Homo sapiens: one gene and its partners. The protein of the gene in region 4 purifies or fractionates together with the protein of the main gene of each other region. This does not show direct contact. Each region holds a gene or a part of one and is shown on either strand. Other genes may lie near its edges. The genes, in order: STX12, SEC22B, NAPA and GOSR1.

The links.
Region 1: the proteins of GOSR1 (region 4) and STX12 purify together in Homo sapiens (affinity purification with mass spectrometry; 5 studies listed by BioGRID and IntAct, with this or other methods). This does not show direct contact.
Region 2: the proteins of GOSR1 (region 4) and SEC22B purify together in Homo sapiens (affinity purification with mass spectrometry; 3 studies listed by BioGRID and IntAct, with this or other methods). This does not show direct contact.
Region 3: the proteins of GOSR1 (region 4) and NAPA purify together in Homo sapiens (affinity purification with mass spectrometry; 3 studies listed by BioGRID and IntAct, with this or other methods). This does not show direct contact.

What each region holds. Positions count from the first base shown.
Region 1 is NC_000001.11:27,775,893-27,783,573, reverse strand, and holds part of STX12 (syntaxin-12), read right to left. Parts: intron 1-7,681. UniProt on the Homo sapiens protein: SNARE promoting fusion of transport vesicles with target membranes. Together with SNARE STX6, promotes movement of vesicles from endosomes to the cell membrane, and may therefore function in the endocytic recycling pathway.
Region 2 is NC_000001.11:120,166,004-120,173,684, forward strand, and holds part of SEC22B (vesicle-trafficking protein SEC22b), read right to left. Parts: intron 2,947-7,681; coding exon 2,837-2,946; intron 1-2,836. UniProt on the Homo sapiens protein: SNARE involved in targeting and fusion of ER-derived transport vesicles with the Golgi complex as well as Golgi-derived retrograde transport vesicles with the ER.
Region 3 is NC_000019.10:47,504,705-47,512,385, forward strand, and holds part of NAPA (alpha-soluble NSF attachment protein), read right to left. Parts: intron 1-7,681. UniProt on the Homo sapiens protein: Required for vesicular transport between the endoplasmic reticulum and the Golgi apparatus. Together with GNA12 promotes CDH5 localization to plasma membrane.
Region 4 is NC_000017.11:30,473,372-30,480,919, forward strand, and holds the start of GOSR1 (Golgi SNAP receptor complex member 1), read left to right. Parts: upstream 1-4,036; 5' UTR 4,037-4,062; coding exon 4,063-4,093; exon of another isoform or gene 4,094-4,441; coding exon of another isoform or gene 4,442-4,622; intron 4,623-7,548. UniProt on the Homo sapiens protein: Involved in transport from the ER to the Golgi apparatus as well as in intra-Golgi transport. It belongs to a super-family of proteins called t-SNAREs or soluble NSF (N-ethylmaleimide-sensitive factor) attachment protein receptor.

The DNA of each region.
Region 1 (7,681 bases), on a different chromosome or scaffold from region 4:
CACCTGAGGTCAGGAGTTTTGAGACAAGGCTGGCCAACATGGAGAAACCCCATCTCTACTAAAAATACAAAAATTAGCCAGGCATGATGGCACATGCCTATAGTCTCAGCTACTCAGAAGGCTGAGGCAGAAGAATTGCTTGAACCCGGGAGCGGAGGTTGCAGTAAGCTGAGATCGTGCCACTGCACTCCAGCCTCGGCAACAGAGCGCGACTCCATCTCAAAAAAACAAAAACAAAAACAAAAAACAAACAACTAGGACTCAATTTCTCCTATCGCTGACCTCTCATTTTAAAAAAGCATATCCTGGCTAAAACTTTTAAAAGAGTATGAAGCAAATCAATTTGTTATACATTACAGCTAACATCCACACTAGGAACTACTCTAAACTGAAAATTCTTTTTGTACTTTAAGCTGATATCGGCAGAATCTGAATCTCCAAATGAACCTTCATCCAAAGCAAAGTCAAATCAAAGTCAAATTATATTGAAAGTAACTATCATCAGAGGTGGGAAAAAGATTTCTCTTCATTTGACAGGATCGAATGCTCTAAGTCAGTATTTTAAACAAATTCAACAACAAAAAAACATTATTTACACCAAATGAGAAAATGATAGCCTATGTGGTGATTATGAAAATGAAGTCATCTCAGTGTTTTACTCTGAAAATTAGGTTTACATTCTGTTTTTATATCACTACAATGAAAATTACCTTTTTTAAAAAATGTTTCATTTTTTTGAGACAGAGCTTTGCTCTCTTTGCCCAGGTTGGAGTGCAATGGCACGGTCTCAGCTCACTGCAACCTCCACCTCCTGGGTTCAAGTGATTCTCCTGTCTCAGCTTCCCAAGTAGCTGGGATTACAGGTGCCCACCACCATGCCGGGCTAATTTGTATATTTTTAGTAAACAGGGTTTCACCATGTTAGCGAGGCTGGTCTCGAACTCCTGACCTGAGGCGATCTGCCCACCCTGCCCTCCCAAAGTGCTGGAATTACAGGTGTGAGTCACCGTGTCCATCAACCTGACTTTAAAAAATAGCCACTGTACCATAACAGTAAAGTTCTAGACTAAAGTGAAAATGGATACTAAATATCAAAGGTATAATTTTCCTTTAACCATACCAGTTTCAGAATATGCAATGGTTAAGAGCATAGCTCTGAATTAAGACCGCCTATATGGCCAGGCATGGTGGTTCAAGTTTGTAACCCCAGCACTTTGGGAGGCCAAGGTGGGAGGATCACTTGAACCCAGGAGTTTGACACCAGCCTGGGCAACAAAGTGAGCCCGTCTCTACAAAAAATTAAAAAATTACTTGGACGTGGTGGTGCGTGCCTGTAGTCCTAGCTACTCGGAAGGTGGAGGTGGGGGGATCCCTTGAGTTCAAGGTTGCAGTGACCTATGACGGTACCACTGTACTACTGGCACATCCTGGGTGACAGAGCAAGACCCTTTCTCAAAACAACAAAAAACAAAAAACCACTGCTTATGCCTATGCTTGTCGTGGTCCCGCTACTTCCAAGCAAAGTGATCTTGAGTAAAAGGCTCCACTCCTCTATGCCTTAGTTTCTTTGCCTTAAAAATGAGAATAAGAGAATCTTCATATGGTTGTTGTGAGGATGAAATGAGATGATACGAAGCTAAATTTAGAACAATGGCACATAAAAGCACTCAATTAAAGATAGCTATTATTATCAAACTCAAGACCAAGAAAAATGTACTTAGCAGTAATAAAATCAATTAAGTACATATTGAATGCCAACTATATATGCATTGTTGTTCCAGGCACTGTGACTAAAGACAAATGTATAATGCATGGTCTCCACAAAACTAACAGTGATCTCTCTGCTTGGGGTGACAATATCAAAAAGCTTGAATTAATTAAAGAATATATAATATAAGTGCGTGCTAAACTGTGAGGGAAAATTGCTTGTATTATAAATTCAAAGGAAATACACCAAAATGAGAGCTAACATTTCTTAAGCACTTACTATGTAGCAGGGACTGTAGATGAATTATCTCATTTAATCATCACAACCCTATGAAATAGGTATTATTAACTCCATTTTAACAATAAGGAAACTGAGAAATAGGTAAAGCAATGTGTTTACACAGCTAGTAAGAAGCAGATCTAGGATTCAAATCCTGGCAATATGACTCCTGAGCCTGCCTACCTAACTATTAAACTATTGCAGGGCAAGGGATTCAACAAGTATTAATAATGTCACCACTGGGGCTGGTCGTGGTGGCTCACACCTATAATCCCAGCACTTTGGGAGGCTGCAGTGGGCAAATCGCCTGACGTCAGGAGTTCGAGACCAGCTTGGTCAACATGGTGAAACCCTGTCTCTACTAAAAATACAAAAATTAGCTGGGCGTGGTGGCATGAGCCTGTAATCCCAGCTACTCAGGAGGCTGAGGCATGAGAATTGCTTAACCCCGGGAGGCAGAGGTTGCAGTGAGCTGAGATTGCGCCACTGTACTCCAGCCTGAGTGACAGAGCAAGACTCCATCTCAAAATAATAAAAATAATAATAATGTCACCATTTATTGAACGCCTGCTATGTGCCAGGCAGGCAGTATACCAGACACTTTCAAACATCCCCCCTTTTTTTTTTTGAGACAGGGTCTCACTCTGTCACCCAGACTGGAGTGCAGTGACGTGATCTCGGCTCACTGCTACCTCTGCTTCCCAGGCTCAAGCGATCAGCGATTTGCCCATCTCAGCCTCCCAAGTAGCTGGGACTACAGGTGTGTGCCACCACACCCAGCTAATTTTTGTATTTTTGGTAGAGCCAGGGTTTCGCCAAGTTGCCCAGGCTGGTCTCAAATTTCTGAGCTCAAGAGATCCACTCGCCTCAGCCTCCCCAAGTGCTGGGATTACAGGTGTGAGCCACTGTGCCCAGCCTCAAACATCCCCTTTTAATAATTTCACTCATTTTATAAATGGGGTTACACACGGCAGGGAAAATAACCTGCTCGAGGTTAATACATGGAAGGGGAGGGATTCAGTCACAGATCTGCTGACCCCGGAGAGTCCATGATCTTTCTGACTTCACTTTGTCTTTCAAAAGCAAAGGAAGGCTGGGCGCCTGTAATCCCAGCACTCTGGGAGGGCAAGGCAGGCAGATCACCTGAGGTCAGGAGTTCAAGACCAGCCTGGCCAACATGGTGAAACCCTGTCTCTACTAAAAATACAAAAATTAGTCGGGCATGTGGTGCACGCCTGTAATCCCAGCTACTGGGGAGGCTGAGGCAGGAGAATTGCTTGAATCTGGGAGGCGGAAGTTGCAATGAGCCTGATCGCCCCACTGCACTCCAGCCTGGGAAACAGAGCAAGACTCCGTCTCAAAAAAAAAAAAAAAAAACAAGCAAAGAAAAACTTAATTGCTATCAGCAGGACTTATGCACAACTGAGAGGATTTGTATAATTTAGATAGCCAATGAGGTAGGGAGAGAAAAGATACTAAAAAAAGGAGGAACCAAAGGGCGGACGCAGTGACTCATGCTTGTAATCCCAGCACTTTGGGAGGCCAAGGCGGGCGGATCACCTGAGGTCAGGAGTTCAAGACTAGCCTGACCAACATGGAGAAACCCTGTGTCTACTAAAAATACAAAATTAGCCGGGCGTGGTGGTACACGCCTGTAATCCCAGCTACTCGGGAGGCTGAGGCTGGAGGATCGCTTGAACCTGGGAGGCAGAGGTTGTGGTGAGCCGAGATCGCACCACTGCATTGCAGCCTGGGCTGTTAACAACAGCGAAACTCTCTTTCTCTAAAAAAAAAAAGGAGGAACCAAATGAGCAAAATATAAACTGAAAGATAGAGTTGAGAAACATAAAGAAAATAGCCTTCCTAGCAAAGAGTAAGGAAGAGTAGAAAATATGGCTAATTTGGGTTAAGATCGCAGGGAGTGAAAGCAAGGTGAAATATTAAGATCTGATTCAGGCCAGGCACGGTGGCTCATGCCTGTAATCCCAGCACTTTCGGAGGCCGAGGCAGGTGGATCATCTGAGGTCAGGAGTTCGAGACCAGCCTGGCTAACATGGTGAAACCCTGTCTCTATAAAAATACAAAAATTAGCTGGGCGTGGTGGCAGGTCCTGTAATCCCAGCAACTCGGGAGGCTGAGGCAGGAGAACTGCTTGAACCCAGGAGGTGGATGTTACAGTGAGCCAAGATTGCGCCATGGCACTCCAGCCTGGGCGACAGAGTGAGACTTGGCTCAAAAAAAAACAAAAAAAAACAAAAACAAAAAAAACCATCTGATTCAATAGACAACAGAGAGCCACTTTAGGCTCTTGAGGAAGTGAGCAGTATAATAAAAACAGGACTTTAGACATAGTGCTGATAGCACCATCAGTATAAACTAGAATGGGGCAAGACCATAATCAGAGACACTATGAATATGCTGTTGAAATACAGATGTTGAGCTGATGAATACTTAAGAGGATAGCAAAGAAACATAAAAAATAAGGGGCAAACATGAAAATAACTTTGAAAGTGGAACCCCAAGGATTTCATAATAATCAATTTTAAATGTTCAACTCTTCTTGCTTTGGGAGACTGAGGTGGGAGGATGGTTTGAGGTCAGGAATTCAAGACCAGCCTGGGCAACACAGCGAGACCCCCGTCTCTAAAAAACTTTTACAACTTGCCAGGCGCAGTGGCATATGCCTGTAGTCCTAGCTATTTGGGAGACTCAAGTAAGAGGATCGCTAAAGCCCAAGAGTTTGAGGTTACAGTGGACTACGATTGCACACTGCATTCCAGCCTGGGTGACAGAGTGAGACCTCCACTCTTCTTATTTTGTTAGTAAACAAGATCACATCAATTAGCAACATAAAGAACAGAAATGCTGTTCTTTTTTTTTTTTTTTTCCTGAGATGGAATCTCGCTCTGTTGCCCAGGCTGGAGTGCAGTGGAGCGATCTTGGTCTTGGTTTACTGCAACCTGCACCTCCCCAGTTCAGGCGATTCTCCTACCTCAGCCTCCCGAGCAGCTAGGACTACAGTCGCCTGCCATCACACCCGGCTTACTTTTTGATTTTTAGTAGAGGCAGGGTTTCGCCATGTTGGCCAGGCTGGTCTCGAATGCCTGACCTCAGGTGATCCGATCGCCTCGGCCTCCCAAAGTGCTGGGATTACAGGCGTGAGACACCTCGCCCAGTCAGAAATGCTGTTCTTTAATCCCTTCAGAGTTAACTTTGAGGCTAATAGGTTTTCAGCTATATCTGCCTCAGCAATACTTGCCCAGACACTTTGTTCCACAGTAAGTCAAATATTTTTCTTCTGTACCCAACACATACTGATAATCACCACTTGTACCAGGCAGTCAACCTTAGCTGTACCTGTAACAACCCACGCAGTGAGCTGCCTTATCTCAGGCTGATGTGCTCAGCAATTCCAACCCCACATCTGTGGCTGAACAGTTTAGAAAAAAGAATAACTATGCTCTCAGACTTTTAATGGGTACAAGTCCTTGCAGGGCTGTATGGGTGTGTGGGTAATATATATGTCTGAGAGCTCATATTCTAAGGGTATATTTGGGTGTGCTGGCCTCTTGGAGAGGTTTGGGGATAGGCACTAGCTTGATAACTGAGTAGATGCAACGTCATCCCATCAATTTCAGATTTCCCATTTCTCACCAAACAATTCCAAAGGAAGAATTTCTTTCTTTTTTCTTTTTTTTTTGAGACTGAGTCTCGCTCTGTCATCCAGGCCAGAGTGCAGTGGCGCAATCTCGGCTCACCGCAACCTCCGCCTCCCGGATTCAAGCAATTCTCCTGCCTCAGCCTCCCAAGTAGCTGGGATTACAGGCGTGCACCATCACGCCTGGCTAATTTTTTTGTATTTTTAGTAAAGACAGGGTTTCACCATATTGGCCAGGCTGGTCTCAAACTCCTGACCTTGTGATCCGCCTGCCTCAGCCTCCCAAAGTGCTGGGATTACAGGCGTGAGTCACCGTGTCCGGCCTGGAAGAATCTCAACTCACACTGCCTAGGGTCATAGGATATGGTATGTACTACACAGTACAAGGGGAAAGAGGCAGGAAGAGTTCCAAAATGGTAGAAATGCCTCATTCATTCAAATCAATTTGATACAATTTATTATGCATCAAGATCCTATATAATGTGATCCCTGGTTACCTCTCTGGCCTCTTTTCCTATTCTGCCTCCCTTTTCTAACGGTACTCCAGCCAAACTAGCCTCCTTGCTCTTCTTTGAACACATCAAAGTCCTTGCTCTTGCCCTCTACCTAGAATGCCTTTCCCAGCTACTCACACAGCTCTTGCTCATTTCATTCACATGTCTACTCACTCAAATGTCAGCTCCTCAGAGATGCCTTCCTTGATCAACTAAAATAATGCACCCACCCTCCCTCTTCCCTGACTCTCTACCCACTTACCCTGCTTTTTCTTCATAGCATTTATTATTACTTGACATTATTTATATGTGTATGTACGTATGTGTGTATACATACTCCCCCCGCACACAGAAACACACATATACACACAATCAGGGGAGGGATTTTATCTCTTGTTCTGCTTCACCCCAGCACACAGCAGGTGCTCCAGGAATATTTGTTGCATAGTGGATCAATGAATCTTTCATATGTTTGGGACTGAGATAAGTACTGGAAATATAAAGATGAATAAGTCATGTCCCTTGACTCAAAGGAGCTAACAATCTGGCAGAGGAGATGAACACACCACGAGAAGAGAAAGCACCACGGCTTCAGGTATTTCCCCCACAGAGTGTCCTCTGGAGAGTGAAAAAACAAGTTATTTGCATACTTGTAAACCTGAAGTGTTAACTGCTATAGCACTGTTATTGATTTATTTATTTTTAATTTATTTATTTAGAGACAAAGTATTGATCTGCCACCCAGGCTGCAGTACAGTGGCATAATCACAGCTCACTGCAGCCTCCAACTCCTGGGCTCAAGAGATTCTCCAGCCTCAGCCTCCTGAGTAGCTAGGACTACAGGCACATGCTACCATGTCTGGCTAATTTTTAACTTTTTTTTTGTAGAGATGGGGTCTCACTATGTTGTCCAGGCTAGTGTCAAACTCCTGGCCTCAAGTAATCCTCCCTCTTTGGCCTCCTAAAGTGCTGGGATTACAGGTGTGAGCCACTGAGCACAGCCCAGAACTGTAATATTAATAAAAAGTAATAAAAAGACAAATTGCTGGTCATAAGAGACCTAGTTTCAAATTCAGATATTGTCATTTGTTAGCAGGGCAACTATTTAACCTTTCTTAGTTTGTTTCCTAATACATAACATGGAAATGATACTGGTGCTTCAGAGTTGTTATAAAATAAGATAATGTATGTAAAGCACTTTTCATACTGCCTGGAACACAGTATGTACTCAAATGTTAGCTATTAATATTACTAACAGTTGACTTAAATGATCCCCTGAGGCCCAATGCCCAATCAATAGCTAAATCTTACCAATTCTATCACCAAGGAAACCTCTCCTATCCTTTCCTTTCTTTTCATTTTCACAGCCCTAACTGGTATCTCTGATTCCAGTCTCTCCCTTTGAATTCAATTCGCACTTTCCTAAATAACTAAATCCAAGCCCCTTAGCTTAGCATTTAACATCCTTCATGTTTGGGCCACAATTTACCTTTCAATCCTTTTTTCCCACTACTTTCTGGAATCCACCACTCTAGCCAAATT
Region 2 (7,681 bases), on a different chromosome or scaffold from region 4:
AAAGACATGCGAATGGCCAAGTATATGAAAAAATGCTCAACATCACTAATCTTCAGGTAAATGTAAATAAAAACCACAACGACATATTATTTCACCCCAGTTAAAATGTCTATTAAAAAGACAAAAGTCAATAAATGCTGTTGAGGATGAAGAGAAAAGAGAACTTTTATACACTATAGAAAACAGTATGGAGGTTTCTCAAAAAACTAAAAACAGAACTACCATACAATCTAGCAATCCCACTGCTGGGTATTTCTCCAAAGGAAAAAAACTCATTATGTTAAAAACTTATCTGTACCCCCATGTTTACGGCAGCACCATTCATAATATCTATGGATAGATAATCAAGAGAAATGTCCATCAAGAGAATAATGGATTTTAAAAGTGTTTTTTACACACACACACACACACACACACACACACACACCATGGAATACTATTCAGCCATAAAAAAGAATGAATTTCTATCATTAGCAGCAACATGGATAAATCTGGAGGACATTAAGTTAAATAAAATCAGTCATGCACAGAAAGATAAATATGGCATGTTCTCATTCATATGTAGGAGCCAAAAAAAATTTTTGAGCTCATGGAAGTAGAGAGTAGAATTGTGGGTATTAGAAGTAGGGAAAGGTAGAGAGAAGGGGAGGATGGGCAGAGGCAAGTTAATGGATAAAAAATTACAACTGGATAGGAAGAATGAGTTCTGGTGTTCTGCAGAACTGTAGGGTGAATATGGCTAGCTATAACTTACCACGTATTTTCAAAAAGCTACAAGATTTTGAATGTTCACAACACAAAGAAATGATAAATGTTTGAGGTGATGAATATGCTAATTACTCTGATTTGATTACACATTGTATACATGTATTGAAATATCACTCTGTATCCCATAAATATGTATAATTATTACATGTCAACTGAAAATAAAAGGGAAAAATTTAAAACATAAGGAGGAGTTTAGGGGCCCAAAGCATTATATATACTCCCATCCTTGCCCTTTCTATGTGGCTCCTGAGGCATCCTAGGGCTCCATAAAGGATAAAGACTATTATATGATCTCTCAGGCCCCTTAAAATAATATTAATAATACAGCTGTCTTATTCCTTGCTTGGGCACCTGAGTTAACTGGTCTCTTTGCTTTTAGTCTACACCATCTTCTATACCATCAGTTTTATTCCCAGAGACTACAGATGACCATATTACCCTGCTTACAAACTCTAAGGGTTCCCTAATACCTACAAAATAAAATCATACTCCATGGTATTATATTTACAGCCTTTCAAAACAAGTGTAAGCAACATTCTATCATATATTTTAATAAACCAAATGGCGGACTGTTCTCCAACATGCTAGGTTCTTTACATATTTGTGGACTTCTGCTTATATTGTTTTTTCTAACCGTTAATGCTCTTTTAAATACCTGGAGAAATCCTGTTCATTTTCATATGTTCAATTCTACCATAATTTTTTCTGTGAAACTTCTTTATATATACTCCCCTCCTCTGTCCCGTTTCTTCAAACTTACCCCCTACAAATGGGAATTTGTTCCTTCCTTCTCTCTGTTCCCAAAACATTTCATTTAAATCTAATTTACAACATCTTTTCAATTAAGATATTATAGTATACTTGTTTGAGTATATGTCTCTCTCTCTACTAAGAGAACAGTGTTAAAAGGTATGGACATTAAATGCAGGACTCAATATAAGGTCTGGCAAAGAATAAACCCTTAATAGCTCTTGGATGGAAATAAAGGATGATATGAGATTATGAATGTCCTAAAGGAATCAGGCAGAAGAAAATCTCTTCTCAATTCCATGAGAACTTTCCTAGGTCTTGGTTCTCTAAACCATGGTGAAAATGAGGATACTAGATATTAAGTGAGTGACTATTTTTGGTGTTGAAAATTAGAGTTCTAGAAAATATTTCAGATATTATAAAAATTAATACATCATAAAACATAATGTCCAACATTTTCTTAGCCAATTGCCTAGGGTTTTATTTTTGTTTTGATGTACTTTTTACTTGTCTTTTATAGGTAGAGAATTTTTGTTTTGTTTTTTAAAAGTAAACATAGCAGCTTCCTCCCTGGCCTAAGTTATCTTACTATCTAAGTCCCTAAAATGGCAAAGATTATTTAACTAATCCGTTTTTATTTTCCTCTGATGCTCTTGTACTCTTTTCCTTTTTAATCCTTCCTATTTTGTCAGCTTCAAACTTGGCATGTATTAAACATTAAATACCAATTATTTGTAGATAATTTAAAATCCAATAATGTTCCTTTGAGTCCTCTATCAGCTGTATCATTTATAACCACTGATTAAGATGCTCTTATCTTTTATAATTTTCTTTTTTCAAAATAATAATAACTAATAATTATTGACTCTTCCCATGTGTGTCAGACAAGATGCTAAGTAATACACACAGATTCCCTCACAATCCTCTCAAACCTCCTATGTTTATTTTCACTACTTTATAGAGGAAACTGAGGCTTAGAGAAGTTATGTGAGCTGTTCAAAGTTACACTGTTAGGAAATGTTTGAGCAAGGGTACTAACCTACACATATCTGGCTCCAAGACAGTCCTAAAGCAAGAAGTTATCTATTATTGCATGATGGGCACAGCATAGACACATGTTAACAGGTTAAATTACTGTAAGCATGCTGAAAAAACCAACAAGATGTCCATTTTGTAGAATTAGAGCCAGAGAAGTTGCTCCTCCCAAAAGACAACATTTTTAAGTAATCTTTACTTTTTAAAAATTATTATTTTTTATCAGGCATTCTGTTACTGTATTTCACTTAAATGATCATAAAGAAATCAAGATTACACTCACTGAAAAGTCATGGCTCCTGCTTCCAAGGTACATCTGGTAGGGGACTGTTCATTCAACTTTCGAAAGAGTTGCTTAGCCTGACTCTGATATTGTTGAAGGTCCCGGCCAGACTGAAAGAAGACATCTTCATTTAAGAATTTTCCACAAAATGCTGTATCAATTAGTGAGAAGCATCATATTATGAGGACACTCTGAATGAGGTCCTTCATTTACAGGTAAGTAAGATTCATTTTAACGGAGGAAAGACAACCTACTTTCAGAGTACAGAGGAAGACCTAACCCCTACTTCTTCAAGATGATCGCATTAGTTATTTGCTAAGAAGCAAAAGCATATACCTCAAATACACTTAAGCACTCTTAACTTTCAATCCAGTGTTCTTTCCACTATTAGGACAGTACTCTCCTCCTAACCCATTTCATTTGCAGTTATTGGCACAGAACTACACAGCATGTGCTATACTCAGGGGAATATCCTAGGAACAAGATTGGTGAATTTCATTTTTATGTTGGAATATCCAGCAGAACCTTCCACAAGTGTTACAGTTTTTAGCATTTAAACAAAACTAAATGTGTGTACTAGTGACTGCAAATTATTACGAACACTTTGACTGCAATTACATAAAAATGACCAAGGGTAGAGACAAAGATTAGGATGTCAGATACCCTTTACTGAAGAAATCTATTTGGTTCCCAAGTTTGGACAGCAAAAGTTTGAATATCGAGGGATATATGCAGACAAAAATGAAAATAATAGCATTCACATGTTATAATTACAGGTAATATTTTCCTGAACAATTTCTAACTGCTTTTACAATTATTTTTGTTAAAAAGAGGGGGCAAATCTACTGGAAAAACCAGCAGTGTCATTTCAAAAGAAGAAAACCATGCATCTCCAATCTACTAGATCCAACAGGGAAAGGAAGTGCCTGAAGAATGGGAAGCAAATAGACATTGTTTTTCCATCCACATGTGGGGTAGGGGAGCTTTCTGCCAGCTACCCAGCTATAGTCTGAATGTTTGCTGGTATCCCCCACAAAATTCATGTTGAAATCCTAACCCCCCAAAGTGATGGTATTAAGAAGTGGGACCTTTGGGAGGTGATTAAGTCATGAGGGTAGAGCCCTCATGAATGTGATTAGTACCTTTATAAAAGAGACCCCAGAGGGCTAGCTTGCTCCATCCACCATGTGAGGAAACAGCCAGAAGGTGACATCTATGAACCAGGAATAGGCCCTCAATAGTCACCAAATCTGCTGGTGCTTGATCTTCACCTTGCAGAACTAGAAAAATCAATTTCTGTCATTTATAAGCCACCCAATTTATGGTATTTTGTATAGTAAACCAGACTAGGACACTGCCATGTGATGCAAAGAAATAATCCTATTTTGGAATTATTTATTTTACATAGAAAGAATAGCCTCCCTTTGGCAGATGTTTAATAACTAAATATTTAAGTAGAAAAGTATTTATGCTAGGGTCTCCCAGGATCTGAGGTCTAACTTTGATAAAGTACAAAGTGATATCTTAAAATTGTAGATAGTGTACTGCTAAGCTGATAATAAAAACAAGGAAGCAACAATAAAATGATAAAGTGGCAGATCAGCAAATGTACAATTACAGGATAATAAGATTCTAAGCTATATGTAAAAATGGTGAACTGGAAATTTCAATAAGAATAAGAAGGTGAATAAGCATGAGGTGAACCAGGGGAGATAGGCAGAGTCCAGTTGAGGTATTAGTTTGTAGATTTATCTTGTTTAATACCACTGTTATGGCAATTATTTGTTTTATTGACATATATTTGTTATATATTTGAGAAATAGTTCTATATTAACATATGTATGTCTGTATGTATGTACAGTTTTATATATTAAACAGTACTTTATAATAATTATATCAAAATTATCATATTAAACAGTACTACTAATATATGGCCAGCCAGTAAGAGTGAATACTGTCATATGCTTTTAGCCAATAAGAACTAGTGCACAATATTCTATTTTCCTAAATTTGAATGGTACTTACCAATCTTTTTGTTTCCCCAGTGCCATTCTGAAGAGATCTGAACCCACAAGAGTAGATAAAAAGCATGCAAATTTCTTTAATTTAATAAAATTAATTTATTAAATTTAATTTAATTTAAAATTCTTTAATAAAAAAAAGAAATATTTTTATTATTTCTTGGCTCAAGTGCCAAGAAATAATATCAACATAGATCGGTGATTTTCAACCTTGGCTTCACAATAGAATCATTTGGGGAAATCTCAAAAACAAAACTACTTATGCCCAGTCTCCACCACCAAACCAATTAAGTCAGCATCTCGGAGGTGGGGCTGTGATATCGGTATTTTTTACATAACTGCAACCACAGGTGTTAAATATATGTTCTTTGCTAAAGGCAGGTGAGAATCTTAAAAGGACTAGTTGAAGAAACATGGAAAAAATTGCCACTCAGATTGGTACAAATCCTTTGACTTTACAAGAGGCACTGTAAACATTACTGTAACCTGAGAAAAAGACTAACAACTGTATCAACTATAAGAAACTGGCCAAAAGCATTCTGCAATTTCAGGAATTTGCAAACAGCAATGTAAAGACTGCCAATATACAACACTGGGGATGTATTTATAGGGATTATGGTATGCCAACCAACACCTTACCATGCTGGTTCAGTTAGCATTACCATCCTCGAGAACACAATGCTAGCACAATCTTCATGGTTAAATAATAATCTTTCTGGCATATTCATACAATGGAATACTATGCAGCCATTAAAACAATGCTGTATAGAGTTTAATGATATGAGAAAATATTCATTAAACACTGTTAAGTGGAAAAAATTAGGTGAAACAGTCTTACGGTATTACCTATTATTTAATGTTATACACACATACATATGTTTAAGGTCATCCACCAAAATGGATATAATTTGAGTACAGATTATAGTTAATAAACACTGTTAACATTTTGGTCATTTTGCTTTTATGTATTTACTGAACTTTCTACAATATGCACAAATTAATTTTGTAATGTGAAAAATCATTCATTCATTACATATTTGCATCCAGTGTATCGATTATGTGCAATTCTGATCTGTGAACCTTTAAGAAAGGCAAGATGAGGCTGGGTATGGGGGTTCACGCCTGTAATCCCAGTACTTTGCGAGGCCAAGGCAGGTGGATCATGAGGTCAGGAGTTCAAGATCAGACTGGCCAAGATGCTGAAACCCCATCTCAACTAAAAATACAAAAATTAGCCGGGTAGGGTTGCAGGTGCCTGTAATCCCAGCTACTCGGGAGGCTGAAGCAGGAGAATCGTTTGAACCTGGGGACCGGAGGTTGCAGTAAGCTGAGATCACACCACTGCACTCTAGCCTGGGCAACAGAGTGAGACTCCATCTCAAAAAAAAAAAAAAGAAAGGCAAGATGGAATTAGAAAAGATTCTTCAGAAATGATCAAATGAAATTATTAAGTGTTCACTTTCTGCCAGCCACTGTTCTGAACACTTTACATTATTTAACTCGTTTATTCTTCATGAGGTGATTAGAATTATTATGTCAATTTTTTACTTGAGAAGTCAAACTTTTTAGCCTCTAAGCTAAAAAGGGAGGAACTAGGATCTGAATGCAGGCAATCTGGCCCTGGAGCCCCTACTCCTAAGCATTATGCTACCCTAACTCTATAATTGAAATTGTTTCAATAGTAGATCCACCTTTTAGGTGAAGTCTTACTATGTAATTCTAACTCATTGGAAATGCTCAAGAAACCATGGGGCAGCTCTGATCTAGATCTCACAAAACAACCTAACCACTGTTTTACATACTGACCTTTAGTTTGCTTTCAAGATCAAAGTCACAAAGGGCCCACAGTTAGCCAGTCCACCTAAAAATATTTAGATATCCTCATTGTGTTTTCTACTTCATCTAGAAAAGATTAATGAAATTTGTATATGATATAATTATGAGATATCTATTAGTAATCCAATAATGCAGTGGATCAGAATAACTGGAAAAACTGTGAAACAAATTTGAGGTTATCCAACAGCAAATGTAGGATTTGGATCTATATATTACAAAAGATAGAAGGTAGTAACTAGACACACAACCACAATACTTTTCGTTGCTGTCACCTAAGACTGCTGAACAACTAGTTGTATCAATAACAACTTTTGCCTTCATAGCTCTTTATCATTTTCATAGCTGAGTTCAGTGGGTATCAATACCCACTGAACTCAGCTGGTCAAAGACCAGCAGCACCAAGAACCAACCACTTTCCTCTAAAAGCAGTTACAGTAAGTGGATTAATCAACCCTCAGTGATTGGGAGCGTGAGACAATTTAACTGTATAACATGTTATCTATCTGCTTTCTTGGAGCTTCCTGCTGCCTATTTGGTGAGATCTAACACTTTCTTCAAGTCTGGACTGCCCTTCACGATGCCAGAGGAAAATGAAAGAAAATACAATAATTTTGAGGCAGAACAGAAAGGTAGATAAAGAAATTGCAAAAATCCTAAAAGGAGAAACATGCCATAAAAGGAATGAGGAAAAAAGATAAACAGGGTATCAGTTAGGGAGTCCACATTTGAGAAGAAAAGCTCATCTCTCTTCCTGCCCTAAGTCTAAATTTTCAGTTAAACACAGAGGAAACACCCTGTATAAAATACTCTGTCTACATTATTTTGTAAATTTTACTCTCTATTGTATTATCTGAATAACTGTCCATCTTCGGTAATATGGCAGCTTGTACAGGCACCTAGTAAATACCTAAAATATGATATCTATTATCAGTGTAAATACTGAAAGTACACTGATAAGAAAACAAAAACATACAAAAATGAAAATACA
Region 3 (7,681 bases), on a different chromosome or scaffold from region 4:
GTGTATATATCTATACATTTACACATACACAGACACACACACACACATATTTTTAAGTATTAGGATTTATATTTGGCCCTGTGGTCCAGCAATGAATTACATCTCTAGCAATTTATCCTAAAAAAACTAATCAGAAAAGTTACAAGGATGTTCAGCATAGCATTATTTAAAACAGCAAAACCCCCCAAAAACTTATTGTCCAACAGTAGGGATACACTGGGAGATAGACAGGAATTTGAAAACATAAAGGGTACCCTGTTTGGGCAGCTTCACTCTGGCTTCTTGACCTCCACATGTACATAATGAGCCTCCTCTTGACTTGGGGGACCTCATTAGTACCTCAAACCCGTAAGTCCCACTGCATTCTTCTGCCCTTAATAATACAACCAGGCTTAGCCCGCGAGGTCTGTAGTCTCTGTAACTGCTCAAACTCCCAATATCTACATAATCAGTAGAATAAAATCCACACACTCTGGAGTCCCACCAAATGGATTTCAGGGCCTCTCTTCACTGGCATAACTAGTGTTTAGTTTATTTTTAAGGAAGAGAAAAGGGAGGAGTGGGTACTTTCCCATTCAAATCATCCTCACCATCCCATCCCACACCCTGTGTCAACTGGCCCAACATTATACCTGGGAACTTGTCCACACCAACCCCAGCTGTGGAGGGGCTCAAAGGTAATTTTGGGAGCTGGGATGTGAGCATTCCTTCCCTCTGCACTGCGGATTCAGTGTGTCCAACCTGCCCATCCCTTTCAGCCACATGAAGTGCTCATTTCATCAAACCAGAGTCCCACAGCCACACACTTTGGGATTCGCTCAGTAGGGTCTGGATGGGGCCTGCAAATGAGATTTTTAACAATTGGGGTTTGGGGGGCCCAGGTAATTCAGCTGATCAGGTGAGTTTGAGAAGGAAAAATTGACTGAGACCGACTACCTGGAAAGCAGCCACCAGCGATCAGATCAGCGGCCAGGCCTGGCAATGTCAGCAGGCAAATAAATGCCCCCACGGTGGGCGGGCTGGTTGGGCCAGGGATCCTGGCCTCCTGAATCCACATCACACCAGGTAAATAATCTATTTATTCCTATCCTCTCTGTCATCTTGCCAGATGAAAAGCCTACCCTCTGCCTTCTGGGGCTGTGCTGATGCTGTCCCCCACCCTCTGCTGTCCCTGGGAAGTGGCCCTGAGCAATGTGTTCTTCCCGCACTCGCCCTGCTGCACTCTGTCTTCCCTCACCCACCTCACCTCAGCCAGCCCAACACACCTTGGGCCTTGTTTGGAGTGACTTCTTTTTTTTTTTTTTTTTTTTGAGATGGAGTTTCGCTCTTGTCGCCCAGGCTGGAGTACAGTGGCACGATCTCAGCTTACTGCAACCTCCAACTCCCGGGTTCAAGCAATTCTCCTGCCTCAGCCTCCTGAGTAGCTGGGATTACAGATGTGTGCCATCACACCCTACTAATTTTTGTATTATTAGTAGAGACAGGGTTTCACCACGTTGGCCAGGCTGGTCTCGAACTCCTGACCTCAAGTGGTCCACTCGCCTCGGCCTCCCAAAGTGCTGGGATTACAGGCATGAGCCACCGTGCCCAGCCTGGAATGACTTCTTTAGAACCCATTCCTGGCCTTGGAGAGGTAAGAAACTTTCAAAACCTTCTGGCTGAGAATCCTGAAGGGTCCTTTGGGGCCTGGCTGCAAAAAACCCTCAGAAGGACCTTCTCTGGAATGTTCTCTTAAAGGGACATTTTCAGACCTTAATCACAGGTCTGCCCACCCCACAGGTCCCCCAGCTCAGCCTTCCCTTCTTTTTGAGTGTGACTAAGTCCTATCCAGCTCCATGCACTCTCTGAAAAAGCACAGACCCTGGATGGGCAGAAATGACCCACGTCACTGAGTGGCCCACAGCGGGCAATCAACAATGAGCAGAGTCAGCCCAGCCGGGTTTATTTCAGGACGGACACAAAGCCTACCAGCTGCCCGGGCTGAAACTCTGTGATCCCAGGCTAAGCACAGCCAACCCTGCACGGGGTCAATGATTCTGTGGGGTGGAAAGGCCAGAGGGATTAACACCTGCTCAGGCCCCAGGCTTGCCTCCTTCTTCCCCTGCACCCCGCGGTCTTGCCCATTACCATGGCCAGGGGATGACAGGAGATCTCCAGGGTCCCATCCTCTTCTTTTAGAAATGGGAGTGAAGTCCCCAAAGGGGGAAAGTGACGTGCCTAGGTTCCAGTGGAAGATCCTGAAGAAGCCATTCACATACACATTTATTCACCTGGGGAACAGGTATCCGAGCATTTATTACGTGCCAGGAGATAACAACAGTACACGAAAGGAAAATCTAGCTGGGCCTCCTCTCCTGAGGGCCTGGGTGGCAGCGCATGTGACAGCTGACTGTCCCTCCCCCACTGACCTCCCCCAAGCTGCCTCTGCTTCACTCCTCCCATCCCACGGCTCTGAGCCACTCCGGGAATAGAGGGAACTGGTTTGGGCTGCCTGATGCAGGGCTGTCTATAATTACCCGCTCAGCTTTGCTCTCTCCCCCTCCAAGGCGGAGGAAGGAGTCTCAGGTCTCCCAAACACAGCCACCAACCTCAGGGACTGCCATATGGAAGGCTGGGCACTGCCAGGAATACACAGATGCCTGATGGGACCTGGGCCAGGGGGTTGTGCAGGGCAGAGTCTTAGCCCCCTCCTTCCTTCCTCCATCCACCAGGCACTTCCTGGCTGCCAGAAATACACCATGCCCTGAGACCCACCACCTGCAGCTCCCGAAGGACCTCACGAGGCAGGGTGGACAAAGTCAGGCCCCCATTTCGGGTCCTGGACTCACTCTATCTCTCTTGCCTCTGTGGAAGCCACAGCCACAGGCCTACGGTTTCCTCCTCAGACTTAAGGCCCACTGCCCCAAGTCTCCAGTCAGCACCCTCAGTGGGGAAGGTGTCCTAGGGCCCGTCACATGCCTGTGTCTTCCCTGTAAGCCCACCTCCTGCACGGCTCTCGAGACCATGTGCCTTAATCACGGCTGGCGCATGGCGTTCCCTGCCTCCCAGGCACTCCCCTGGAAGGAGCCCACAGCTCCTCACGAGAGCCCTTTGGGTGCTGCCCTTGCTTTACAGGCGAGGAAGCTGGGGCTCAGAGAGGGCGGAGGGCTTGTCCAAGCTTACCCTGCCAGGAAGCAGCAGGGCTTGGAAAGAGGACTGGGGCCCTGGGGATCCAGTCCTGCCCTTGCCTCTCACTCAGTGATCAGGAAGGCTTCCTTCCCCATGCCCAAGGCTCCTTGGGAAAATAAGGAGGGAGGACAAGGTCCCTGCCTGCCCCCACCCCTCCTCTAGATTAAAGAAGCCAGGGAGCCTGTACTGCCTAGGCTTCCCTCATCTCACGAGCAGAGGCTGCTCTCTGCTGGGGCTGCGTGGAGCATCCTCTAGGCAAAGGAGTATGAATTAAGCCAGCCCCCTACCGAGCCTGCCAGTAACAAGCCAACAGGCAGAAGGAACGTCAGAAAAAGTTAAGGCTGCCTGTGGTGCAGGGTCCACCCTGGCACAGGGAGCCGGGGGCCACCAGCCCTGCTAGTCCACTGACTGCACTGGAGCTGGGAGCTGCCAGAGGCTCAGCATCCTGAAGGCACCGCCACCAGTATCACCTGGAAGCGGGAAACCACCAGCTGCCTCCCGCCACTCTGCAGTGGGCCTTGCCTGACCAAGCAGAGTATGAGTTCCTGCAGGGCGGGGCCTGAGCCCAGCTCTGCTTTCCCATCTCTCCACAAGCCCCAGTTAACAACGGTGAAAGAATAAAGTGTCACAGGCTAACTGCCCAGCTCTGAAATCGCCACAGGACCCTCTTGTGACATGCCTGTCTGGGCAAAGACAAGGGGTAGAAAGAGAATGACTTTGGGGTGGCGAGACCTGGGCTGAAGTCCGTTTCAGGTACTTTGCTAAGTGTTCGACCTGGGGCTAGTTATCCCTGAGGCTTTTTTTTTTTAAATAAGAGATGGGGTCTCCCTGTGTTGCCTACACTGGTCTCGAACTCCTGGGCTCAAGCAATCCTCCTGCCTCTGCTCCCAAAGTGCTGAGATTCCATTCTTTATCTACAAAATGGCAGCATGTCTGGCCACAGTGGCTCACACCTACAATCCCAGGGCTTTGGGAGGCCGAAGCAGGAGGGTTGCTTGATCTCGAGTTTGAGACCAGCCTGGGCAACACAGTGAGACCCCAACTCTACTAAAAATTAGCCAGGCATGGTGGCATATGCCTACAGTCCCAGCTACTTGGGAAGCTGAGGTGAGAGGATCACTTGAGCCCAGGAGGTTGAGACTGCAATGAGCTATGATCGCGCCACTGCCCTCCAGCCTGGGCAACAGAACAAGACCCTGTCTCTCAAAAAATGAAAAATGAAATAAAATGGAGACAATGAATCTGGCCTGGGAGGAGTCTTTGTGAGGATTAGAAATGACACATAGTCAATACTTGGCACAGAGCGCAGAATGGAAAAGGTGCTCAATGGTTGCTATTACACAAAGGAAGAGAAATACGCTCAAAGGGGTGCCTGCCACCCAGGAATGGGAATTCTAGAGAGTTTCTTGTGGTGGTAAAAATAAAATAAAATAAAATAAAATAAAATAAAATAAAATAAAATAAAATAAAATAAAATAAATAAAATAAAATAAAATAAAATAAATGCTGACAGTAGTCAGACAGGCCTGGCCTCAGCGCCAGCTCATCGTGTGCCAGCCTGCGTTTCCTTATGTGTAACTAGGCATAAGACTCCACACCTTGCAGGGCTGCTGAAGCACGAGCAATCTTGCAGGCAGCACCCCACGGCGTGCCCAGCAGAGAGCTGGCCACACCACGGGCGTTCAGTAAACGAGAGCATCCCTCTCATCAGGCCCCGCAGAGGACCGATTCCAGGCACGCTTCCCTACTTCAGAATAGCAGCATGGGCTTCATCTCCATCCCAGATTAGCTAAGTAATGCTCCTCCTTCGGCTTCCAGAGTCCTGGCCTCCCATGCCCCACCCCTTACTGCACAATGCTCAAAATACATACAGGCCCACGGCCCTTCGAGATGAGCTCAGAGCCAGGATCTCACCTGCCACACGGCACACAGCCTGGCAGGCGCCCTGTTTCTTATTTTCTTATACGGATGCCCTCCTGCACCCCAACGGGATTACATTTCACCACAGACCAAGGGCGAATGTACTTCCTTTTTCTTAAAAGGTGTTCTCAAAGACCCTTGCCTCTCAGTAGCCCCATCCCAAAAAGGAGACGGAAATGTTTGTATGGCCAGGCAGCAAAGTCCTATCCATCAGGAAAGCCAGGAACTCTCGGATTCCCCAGAAACCTTGTGTGCCCTCAGGAAAGACTCCACTCTGAGACTGGGCAAGAGATGCCAAGTTTTCAGTTGTGGATCTTGGCAGCTGGCAGGGCACTGTGATTCACCAGGGTGCCCACTGGAAATGGCGCCGGGGTTTCTGCACGCTCTGCAGAGGAAGGCGGTCTGGAGAGAAATCTGGAAGCTCGTGCCCACACCAGTCTCAGCCAAGGCCCTGGGCAGGCCCTGTACAGACAAGCTGGCCCTCCCAGGGTCCCGCCGTTATTGCCTACAGGTAGTTCAAACAGGAACTGATTTGTCAAGATCTGATCTTAGGAATGCACTGTTTGTATACAGAACACCCTCTGCCACCTATTTCTCCAGCACTTCTAGCTCAACTTCCAATGACAATACCTACTAATAAAGATGACAGTGAGCCCTTAATAAACATTAGCAGAGCCAGGCAACGTGCTCCCACCACTTCCCACACATCGTCTCATTTATCCTTAAAACCACCTGAGGAAACAGTTACCATGATTTTCATTTCACAGATGAAGAAACTCCCTCTACACGTTTGTATCCAAGAGGAAGGAAGTTTTTATTTTGGCTATTTTGGGGACAGGGGAGGTGGCTGGGAAACATCAGGGATGAGGAAAAGCCCCAGGGAACAGAGCCGCCATTCAGAACCTGCAGGATCCCCAAACGGCACAGCAGGCACTCTGGATTCCCCAGGAGACACGCAGCAGGGAGGAGGAACTAGTGTGCCTGGACTCAGCCATCCCCTTCTGCTGCTGGCTCACTGTGCTGTAGTTAGGAAGTCTCCGTCTTTTTGCTTCCAGAGCAGAAGTTTGAGCTGCGCCCCCATCACCAAGGGGAGGAACAGGTATGGCTTTGAGCTTCTCCTAACTGGCTGGTGCTGTCGCCTTCAGTGGCTGCTGGTGCATCAAAGCCCCCTAGCGTCTGGCAGCCCAGAAATAATGAAGAGCAAGGGTGGCATCTGAGCACCAAGGCAGGCGACAGCACAGACACCCATCGCCTTGCGTCCCAGGTGCGGGCTCTCTGACTTGCCCTTTGACAGGGGCAGAGGCCCCTCAATGTGGGATGCTGTCATTGCTGGGGTTCCCAAAGGGGAAGGGAGAGGCACCAAGGACAAGCTGAGCCGCAACGCTCCCTTCTCCAGTCCCGGCAGCTACCAAGGACCTTGAATAAAGGTGGGTTATGAAATGTTGAACACAAGCAAACCCAGATCAGAGAGGAGGAGGTGCCTGAGTGATTCCCGCCCGCCAAGCAGGTCCTCCCAAGCTGGCCTCTGGCTGTGCTCCCAGCTCCCAGGCACACAAGCTCCGGTCAGGCCAGCCTCCCATCCTCCCTGCCCTCTGCCCTAACCTCACTCATACTCCCACAGCACCAGGTCAGCTCCTCTGGGAGCTGGAAGGAACTGAGATGAACACACCAGCTCTTTTTTTCACATATTTGGAGAAAACAGCCATGGGAGGACAGTTAAGAGGGTGGCAGCTCTCCAACACACCTAGTTTGCCAACATCCTTCCTAAATGTAGTGCCCAGAGATGGTCATGAACCTTGAGGAGAAACTACCGTGGTAGCACAGCAAAGGGGCTAAGTGAGAAGGCTCTGGAATCACACAGAACTGGGTTTGAATGCCACTTCTCCCACTTACTGTGGGGCTGGGCAAATAAGTCAACTTCTCTAAGCCCCCAAGTTTCTCTACCTCCACGGGGATTTTGTAAGGACTAAATCCATACCATCCATCAGCAGGTTGAGCCTGGCCCAGGCCAGGGTCTGAGTCAGAGCGAGCACTTAATAACCAGCATCTGCTAGTATTACCGGCACTGCAACAGCCTCCTGCTGTCACTCTCCCCCACACCAGCTGCTGCAGTCCTTTCTAGAAGGCAAACAGGAGCTCGCCAGGATGGGCCTCCCTTAGCCTCCTCGGAGATCTTCAGTGCCTCCTCCAGGCCCAGCCCTTGCTCACCAGACCTTCCTTGTCTGGCCTCACCTGCCGCTTCCACCTTTATGGTCTAACGTGGAACTCCCTGTGTTCCATCTTCCTAAGGCATGCTCCATAATAATCCTTGCCTGGAGTGCTGCTCCCTGCCAGAGAGCACCCCAGAACTCATGTTCATCCCCCCAGGGTTGGGGCCTCTCCCCCAGGAAGCCATTTCTGATCCCTCTGGATCTCAGTTCCCTGTCTTTCCAGGCAGAACCTCCCGTCACGGTAGATCTCTGTTGCACCATCCCTGCTGCCTAGAGCACCCTCCCCGGCCCCACTCCCCAGCAAGTCCTGGGATTCCTTGGGGCCCAGCTCACTCCTCACCAAGAGCCTCCCCCTGGTTCACGCTGCTTCCTCTGAGCTCAGA
Region 4 (7,548 bases):
CTTTCACCTCCAGGTATGTTTCAATTCATAGGTGACAGAAGAGAGGCCAGGCAAGAGACAGAGAACTCAAACAGAAGTTTTAGGCAGTATCACTGGGTGGAGGAAAATATGAGGTTAGCACCTGTCAAGGAGGTGGCACTGGTAAACAGTCTTCCAGTTAGGAAACCTGAATGGCTAGACATTAGAATTAAGGGTTAACCAAAAATAGACCAATTTTAACAAACACAGAATCCCTCTTGGTATTAGTTCCACCCCATACTGGATTAAGCTGATCTGCCCCTACCTGAACTGCCTGCAAGAAGAGGCAGTAAATTCTTTCTGGAGAAAGACAACATCATCTAGATCCTCAAATGATTAATACAAAGTTGTATCTATAATATATAGCATCCAATCAAAAGTTCTTATTATCAAAAGACAAGATTAAATTGTGAATGATCAAGAAAAATAGAAACAATCCTATGGGAAGTACAGATTTCTCAGTTATCAGAAATTTTTAAAGAATGATGATGGGCCGGGTGCGGTGGCTCACGCCTTTGTAATCCTAGCACTTTGGGAGGCCGAGGTGGGCGGATCATCTGAGGTTGGGAGTTTGAGACCAGTCTGGCCAACATGGAGAAACCTCATCTCTAATAAAAATACAAAATTAGCTGGGCGTGGTGGTGCATGCCTGTAATCCCAGCTACACGAGAGGCTGAGGCAGGAGAATCACTTGAACTCAGGAGGCGGAGGTTGCAGTGAGCTGAGATCACGCCATTGCACTCCAGCCTGGGTGACAAGAGCGAAACTCCGTCTCAAAAAAAAAAAAAAAAAAAAAAAAAGCCGGGCGCAGTGTCTCATACCTGTAATCCCAGCACTTTTGGGAGGCTGAGGTGGGAGGATCACAAGGTCAGGAGTTCGAGACCAGCCCAGGTAATATGGTGAAAGCCCATCTCTACTAAAAATACAAAACTTAGCCAGTGTGGTGGCAGGCACCTGTAATCCCAGTTACTTGAGAGGCTGAGGCAGGAGAATCCTTGAACTCAGGAGGTGGAGGTTGCAGTGAGCCGAGATCGTGCCACTGCACTCCAGCCTGGGCGACAGAGCAAGACTCTGTCTCAAAAAAAAAAAAAAAAAAAAAAGAATGATGATGAATGAATTCAAGAAAGTAGAAGACAAGATGAAGAATTTTAGCAGGTTTTTTTTTTTAAGACAGGGTCTTACTCTGTCACCCAGGCTGGAGTGCAGTGGTGTGGTGATGGCTCACTGCAGCCTTGACCTCCAGGGCTCAAGCAATCCTCCCACTTCAGCCTCTTGAGTAGCGGGACTATAGGGCGCATCACCACGCCTGGCTAATGTTTAAATTTTTTGTAGAGATGAGGTCCTACTATGTTGCCCAGGCTGGCCTCAAACTCCTGGACTCAAGCAATCCTACCACCTCAGCCTCCCAAAGTGCTGGGATTAGAGGCATGAACCACTACATCCAGCCCGATAATTAAAACATTTAAAAATTAAATCAACAATTTCACTTCTGGACAAAATGGATTAGCTGTATTTCTTTCTATTTTTCCCACTAAGCACAGCAAAAAAAAAAAAAATCATATATATATATTTTTAAAAAGACTCAAAAAGGTGGAAAGAAGAAGGCAGACCAGCTAAGGACCTCAGAATGTAAAGAACATGAAGGTGAGTTCCCTGGGTTTCCTTTTTGTTTCCTATGTCCTATACTGGGTGCTGGAGAAACTGGCAACCTAGAAATGCCAAAGGGTGCAGACAAGAAAAGTCCAAAGGAAAATGGAAAGCCTTCTCTCTCCAGACAAGGGATGAGGAAACAGGTATCCTAACAAGACAGAATACTTTTGGACAATAATTTCACCACTCTGGACAAATGCCACAGAAAAAACTGAGGCCCATCTTCACTCCTTGCCATCAAAGGCTGAGTGAGGAGGCTAGGCTTCCACACTCACCTGGCTCTAATGAAGCACTCCACCCATCCCCCACTTGGACTTCTCGTCCATTGCACAGCAGCAATGAGGCTCCCTGCCATGGTGGCAGTGGGGACCACATGCGGAGCAGTAACAAGGCACCCCCTCCCTGGGGAATCAGTGAAGGCCAAGGGAGAGCCTGAACTTCCACTGCCACCTGGAAGTAGCAAGCATTTCCCTATGTCCCCCAGCAGCATAGTGTCAGAGGAAGTCTGCTTAAACAGAAGACATAAATAAGATCAGAATCTCATAACAAATACCTGAAACATCAGGATACAATTTATAAAAATTGTCATTCCAATAGCCCAGAGAACTTCGACTTGAGTGAAAAAAAGACAACAGACCCCAACATCAAGATGACACAGATGTTGGAATTATCTGATGAGGACTTTAAAGCAGCTCTAATAAAAATACTTTAGTGAGCAATTACAAACAAACTTAGAACAAATGATAAAACGAGTCTCAGCAAAGAAACAGAAGATATAATGAGGAACTGAACAGAAGTTTTAGATACGAAAAATGCAATAATTGACATGAACTCAACGAATAGGCTCAACAGCAGAATGGAGGGAACAGAGGAAAGACATACTTTCTGTCAGCAAATCTGAAGACAGAATAGTAGATAGTACCAAATCCGAATGATGGAAAATAGACTGAAAAAAAATTAGCATAACTTCAGAGCTATGTGGGACATTAACACAAGATCTAGCATTCACGTCATCAGACTCCCAGAAAAAGAAGAGAAACAGTATGAGACAGAAAAAGTATTGGAAGAAACAATGGTTGAGAATCCCCCAAATTTGGCAGAAGACATAAATGTCAGAATCAAGAAGCTGAGGATATCCCAAACAGGATAAATCCAAAGAAATCTACACCAAGGCACATCATAACTTCTGAAAACTAAAGAACAGTTCTTGAAAGCAGTGAGAGAGAAAATGTATTTTAGCTACAGTGGAAAAACAATTCCAATTTTAGTCAATTTCTTATCTGAAACTATGGAGGCCAGAAGGAATTGGCACATTTTTCAAGTGCTGAAGAAAGAAATTGTCAACTTCAGATTGTATATCTGGCAACAATATCCGATCCCCCAAGAATGAAGGGAAATCAAGACATTCTCAGATGAAGAAAAACTAATAGAATTTGTCACCAGCTGATCTACTCTTTAAAAAAAAAATGGCTGAGGGAAATTCTTGAAACAGAAAGGAAACGATTAGAAAAAGGAATCTTGGGACACTAGGAACGAAGAAGAGTAAAATATGCATAAATCAAGTAAGCTTTCCTCTTCTCTTGAATTCTCTAACTTATGCCTGACCCTTGAAGCAAATATTGTAACACTGATGTGGTTCTCCTCAATGAATGCAGAGGAAATACTTAAAAACAACTATATTATAAATGAGTGGGGGAAAGAACTTTACAGGAATTAAGGTTTCTACACTTCACTAGAATTAAGTCAGCACCGGTAGACTGTGATAATTTATGTATCTATAAAGTGTGGGTTTGGACAGCAGATTTTATCAGGTTGAGGGCTCAGGCCGAGAGCATGTAGAAGCAGTTAGCTCACTCTTTCTAGATGTGGCGGCTGACAAGGACAAAGAGGGCTGGGACTAGAACTGCTGTAGACAAGGAAAGCAGCCAGTGGAGAAGAGCGCATACGCCAAAGAACGTGGATGATGGAGCACAGGCGGGGAGGTAGGATGAAGGAAATGGCTCTGGGAAGAAAGGGTCTCTATGTCTGAGAAAGGAAGAAATTGGCTGAAGATACAAATTAGAGACAAGGTGAGGGAAATTGAGGGAGTTGCCTGAGGATGATTCTCCTCCCAGTCAAGTAGGCACCTGCTGAGAGAAAGGATAAGCCGAGATGAGGGAGATGATGATGGTTTGGGGCGCAGAAAGCGGGAATGAAAGACAGGAGCTAAAGCCGAAGTTTTTTCTCTCTCGCTACTTAAAAGCTGTAAGATAACGAATTGATCAGCAGGTGGCAGTGTCCGCGGAGGCTCGCATCCCGTCGGCCCTGGCTCTCAAGGCGGAAACACGCACCATGGTGACTTTCCGGCCTGCATCGCCTCTGCTCCCCTATCCCGGCTGACGTTGGACGACAAAGATGGCGGCAGGGACCAGCAGTTACTGGGAAGGTGAGGGCGAGAAGGCCTCCGGGTGCGTCCTACGAGGGTGAGAGGGGCTGAGTGAGGACAGATCTTGGGAGAAGCAGCACAGGAAAGAACCAGACTCCCGGAGCGGCCGAGCTGAGCAGCGGGGCTTGCCTAAGTGGGATCCCCGGGGCCTTGGGGATACCGAACGGTCTGGGGTAGGGGTCTGGCCTGGCCGGGGCGTGTGAGCGGGACGTGGGGCAGGGGTTGGGCAGAGTGGACAGAGCGGGGATGTAGAGGAAGAGGGCTCTCAATCGCCTGGGTAGAATTGTGTTGAGGGAGTAATGGAACTCGGACGAAGGGGCTTGGGGTACGAACTCTGAGAGGAAACGAATGTTGAGGGAGAAGATCCAGAGCCCCGGAGACTGGAGGAGTCAGCGCATTGGAGCTGAGGTCACTATTGGAAAACTGAGTGGGAAAAGAGAAGGAGGAACTTGCATTCCGGTCCGTCGGAGGAAGTATGAAGAGAATAGGAGACAGAATGTCTCTTATTGGGTCTCCATGACAACTACAGGTTGGGGACTTCCAGGACTGGGTGTTTGAAGGAGGAGAAAATAACTTACCCTTCTGCTCTAGAGTCTAGAATCGGTTTTATTGAAAAAGTTGAGAGAACCTGTGTGAATTGCAGTTACATTTGCTATACTTCTCCCACCAAAAAAACCTTCCTGTGATTTGACAAATGCATTTGTTTAATTCCTGAAACTATAGTCGGATAAAGTGAGCTTACATAAAACTCATTCGTGGATTATGATGATCAACAAGAGCAGAGAAAGCTCACCTTTTTCTCCCAACTGTCTCTTTGCTTTACAGCCGCATAGAAACTACTTTCCAAATTCCTTTGACCTGTTTTTATTGCTATACACTGAAGCCTCTAGAAACCACAGTATTGTCACTATCAGCCCCTTGGTCTAAGAAACTCAATTCTAAATTTATCCAGATTTGCCTATCATACTTTCAAAATGCTTTTACTTATGTTTCCTACTAGAGAAGACAATTATTCCAATCACAGAAAAGCGTGCTTATAGTTTAAAACATGTATTACAATGCCCATTTGAAATGTGTGTACCAGCTAGAAAACTTTTTTTTTTTTTTTTTTGGAGACTCGCTATGTCGCCCAGGCTGGAGTGCGGTGGCGCTATCGATCTCGGCTCACTGCAGCCTCCGCCTCCTGCGTTCAAGCGATTCTCCTGTCTCAGCCTCCTTAGTAGCTGGGACTACAGATGCATGCCACCACGCCTGGCTAATTTTTGTATTTTTAGTAGAGACGGGGTTTCACCATGTTGGCCAGGATGTTCTTGATCTCCTGACCTCGTGATCCGCCCGCCTCTGCCTCCCAAAGTGCTGGGATTACAGGTGTGACCCACCGCGCCTGGCCGCTAGAAAACATTTTAAAATTATGTAGAAGAGGCTACTGATATCTTTATTACTAGTCATTAGCCTGTGGTTTTTTGAAGCAGCATGCTATAATATTACAGCGGCTCATTACTGACAACCTACTCTGTGCCAGCTGCTGTAAGCATATGATTACCAATACATAAGCAAACCCTGAAGGTAGGGGTTTAAAAAACAAGAAGCTGAAGTTCATAGGTTAAGTAGATTGTTGATAAATCATAGAGTCAGTAAGTGGCTGTGCCGAGATTCGAACTGGCATTTGGTCTCTGGGCAAATATGCTCCACTATGTTAACTACGCTTTCTATTTCTGGTTGAAAAGCATATTGAAATAATGTTTTGTATTCTTTTTGAAAGAGAGATTCTTATACCATTACCTCTGGTACTTCTGCCCTTTTATTTTAACCTTCACTTCACCATGAATGAGAATACTCGTATCTGTGTGTGGGTGTCCAGACTGTGGCTTCTGTCACGCAACCCTTAGATGCCAGACTGCTAAACCAATTTCTCTACTTGCCTGTTTGCTTCTGCTATTAAAACTTATGTACTTATTTCTATCATACTCATATTCGACCTTGTTAGTAGCACATTGTTTATTGTTAGTTTTAGCCCTCCAAATTACTTTCAGTAAGTTTTTTTCTTTTTTTTAGATGGAGTCTCGCACTGTCGCCCAGGCTGGAGTGCAGTGGCTCAATCTCCACTCACTGCAAACTCTGCCTTCCAGTGCCTTCCAGGTTCACGCCATTCTCCTGCCTCAGCCTCCTGAGTAGCTGGGACTACAGGCGCCCACCACCACGCCTGGCTAATTTTTTGTATTTTTAATAGAGACAGGGTTTCACCGTGTTAGCTAGGATGGTCTTGATCTCCTGACCTCATGATCCGCCTGCCTCGGCCTCCCAAAGTGCTGGGATTACAGGCGTGAGCCACTGCGCCTGGCCTCAGTAAGTTTTTTAAAGGCGGTTTTTGGCCAGGTGCGATGTCTCATGCCTGTAATTCTAGCACTTTTGGAGGCCCAGGCAGGAGGGTCACTGGAGTTTAGGAGTTCGAGAGCAGCCTGGGCAACATTGTGAGAAAAAACAGAAAAGAAAAAAAGAAAGAAAAAGGCAATTTTTGTGGTAACTTTTTTTCTTTATGTTCAATTGAGAAGTCATTTTGGTCCGGGCGTGGTGGCTCACACCTGTAATCCTAGCACTTTGGGAGGCCAAGGTGGGTGGATCACTTGAGGTCAGGAGTTAAAGACCACCCTGGCCAACATGGTGAAACCCCGTCTTTACTAAAAATACAAAAATTAGCCAGGCATGGTGGTGTGTGCCTGTAGTCCCAGCTACTTGGGAGGTAGTTGAGGCATGAGAGTTGCTTGAACCCAGGAGGTGGAGTATGCAGTGAGCCAAGGTCATGCCACTGCACTCCAGCCTGGGTGACAGAACGAGACTCCATCTCAAAAAAAAAAAGAAAAAAAAAGGTAAGTCATTTTGCTATTATGAAAAGAAGTTCATAAGCCTAATAAAGCTTTGGAACATAAAAAGCAAAATCCCTTTCAAAAGAATAATGGCTTCTTTCTTATAACATTAACTGGTAAGTTGATAATGCTGGTCATAAACCATATTTTTAGTTCCTTTGTGATTTGTATTATCTTCTTGTTTTTCTCTGAATTGCAGAATTTTAGTTATTGCTATACAAATAGTTTCAGGAAGGATAGAACAACATTTGTTTTCTAGCCATCTTTGGAGTAAAGCTGCGAAGTTGCATCTACCATTACTATTTCCCTTCTTGCCCCCTCTGAAGTTTATAAGTGACTAATCTGCTTTGCTGGGCAAGTCCTTGGTTTCCTTCTTTTAAGACTTTTATTTTCCTTTTTTTGAGACATAGTTTTGTTCTTGTTACCCAGGCTGGAGTACGATGGCGCAATCTTGGCTCACCGCAACCTCTGCCTCCTGCGTTCAAGCGATTCTCCTGCCTCAGCCTTCCGAGTAGCTGGGATTACAGGCGTGCGCCACCACACCTGGCTAATTTTCTATTTTTAGTAGAGATAGGGTTTCTCCATGTTGAT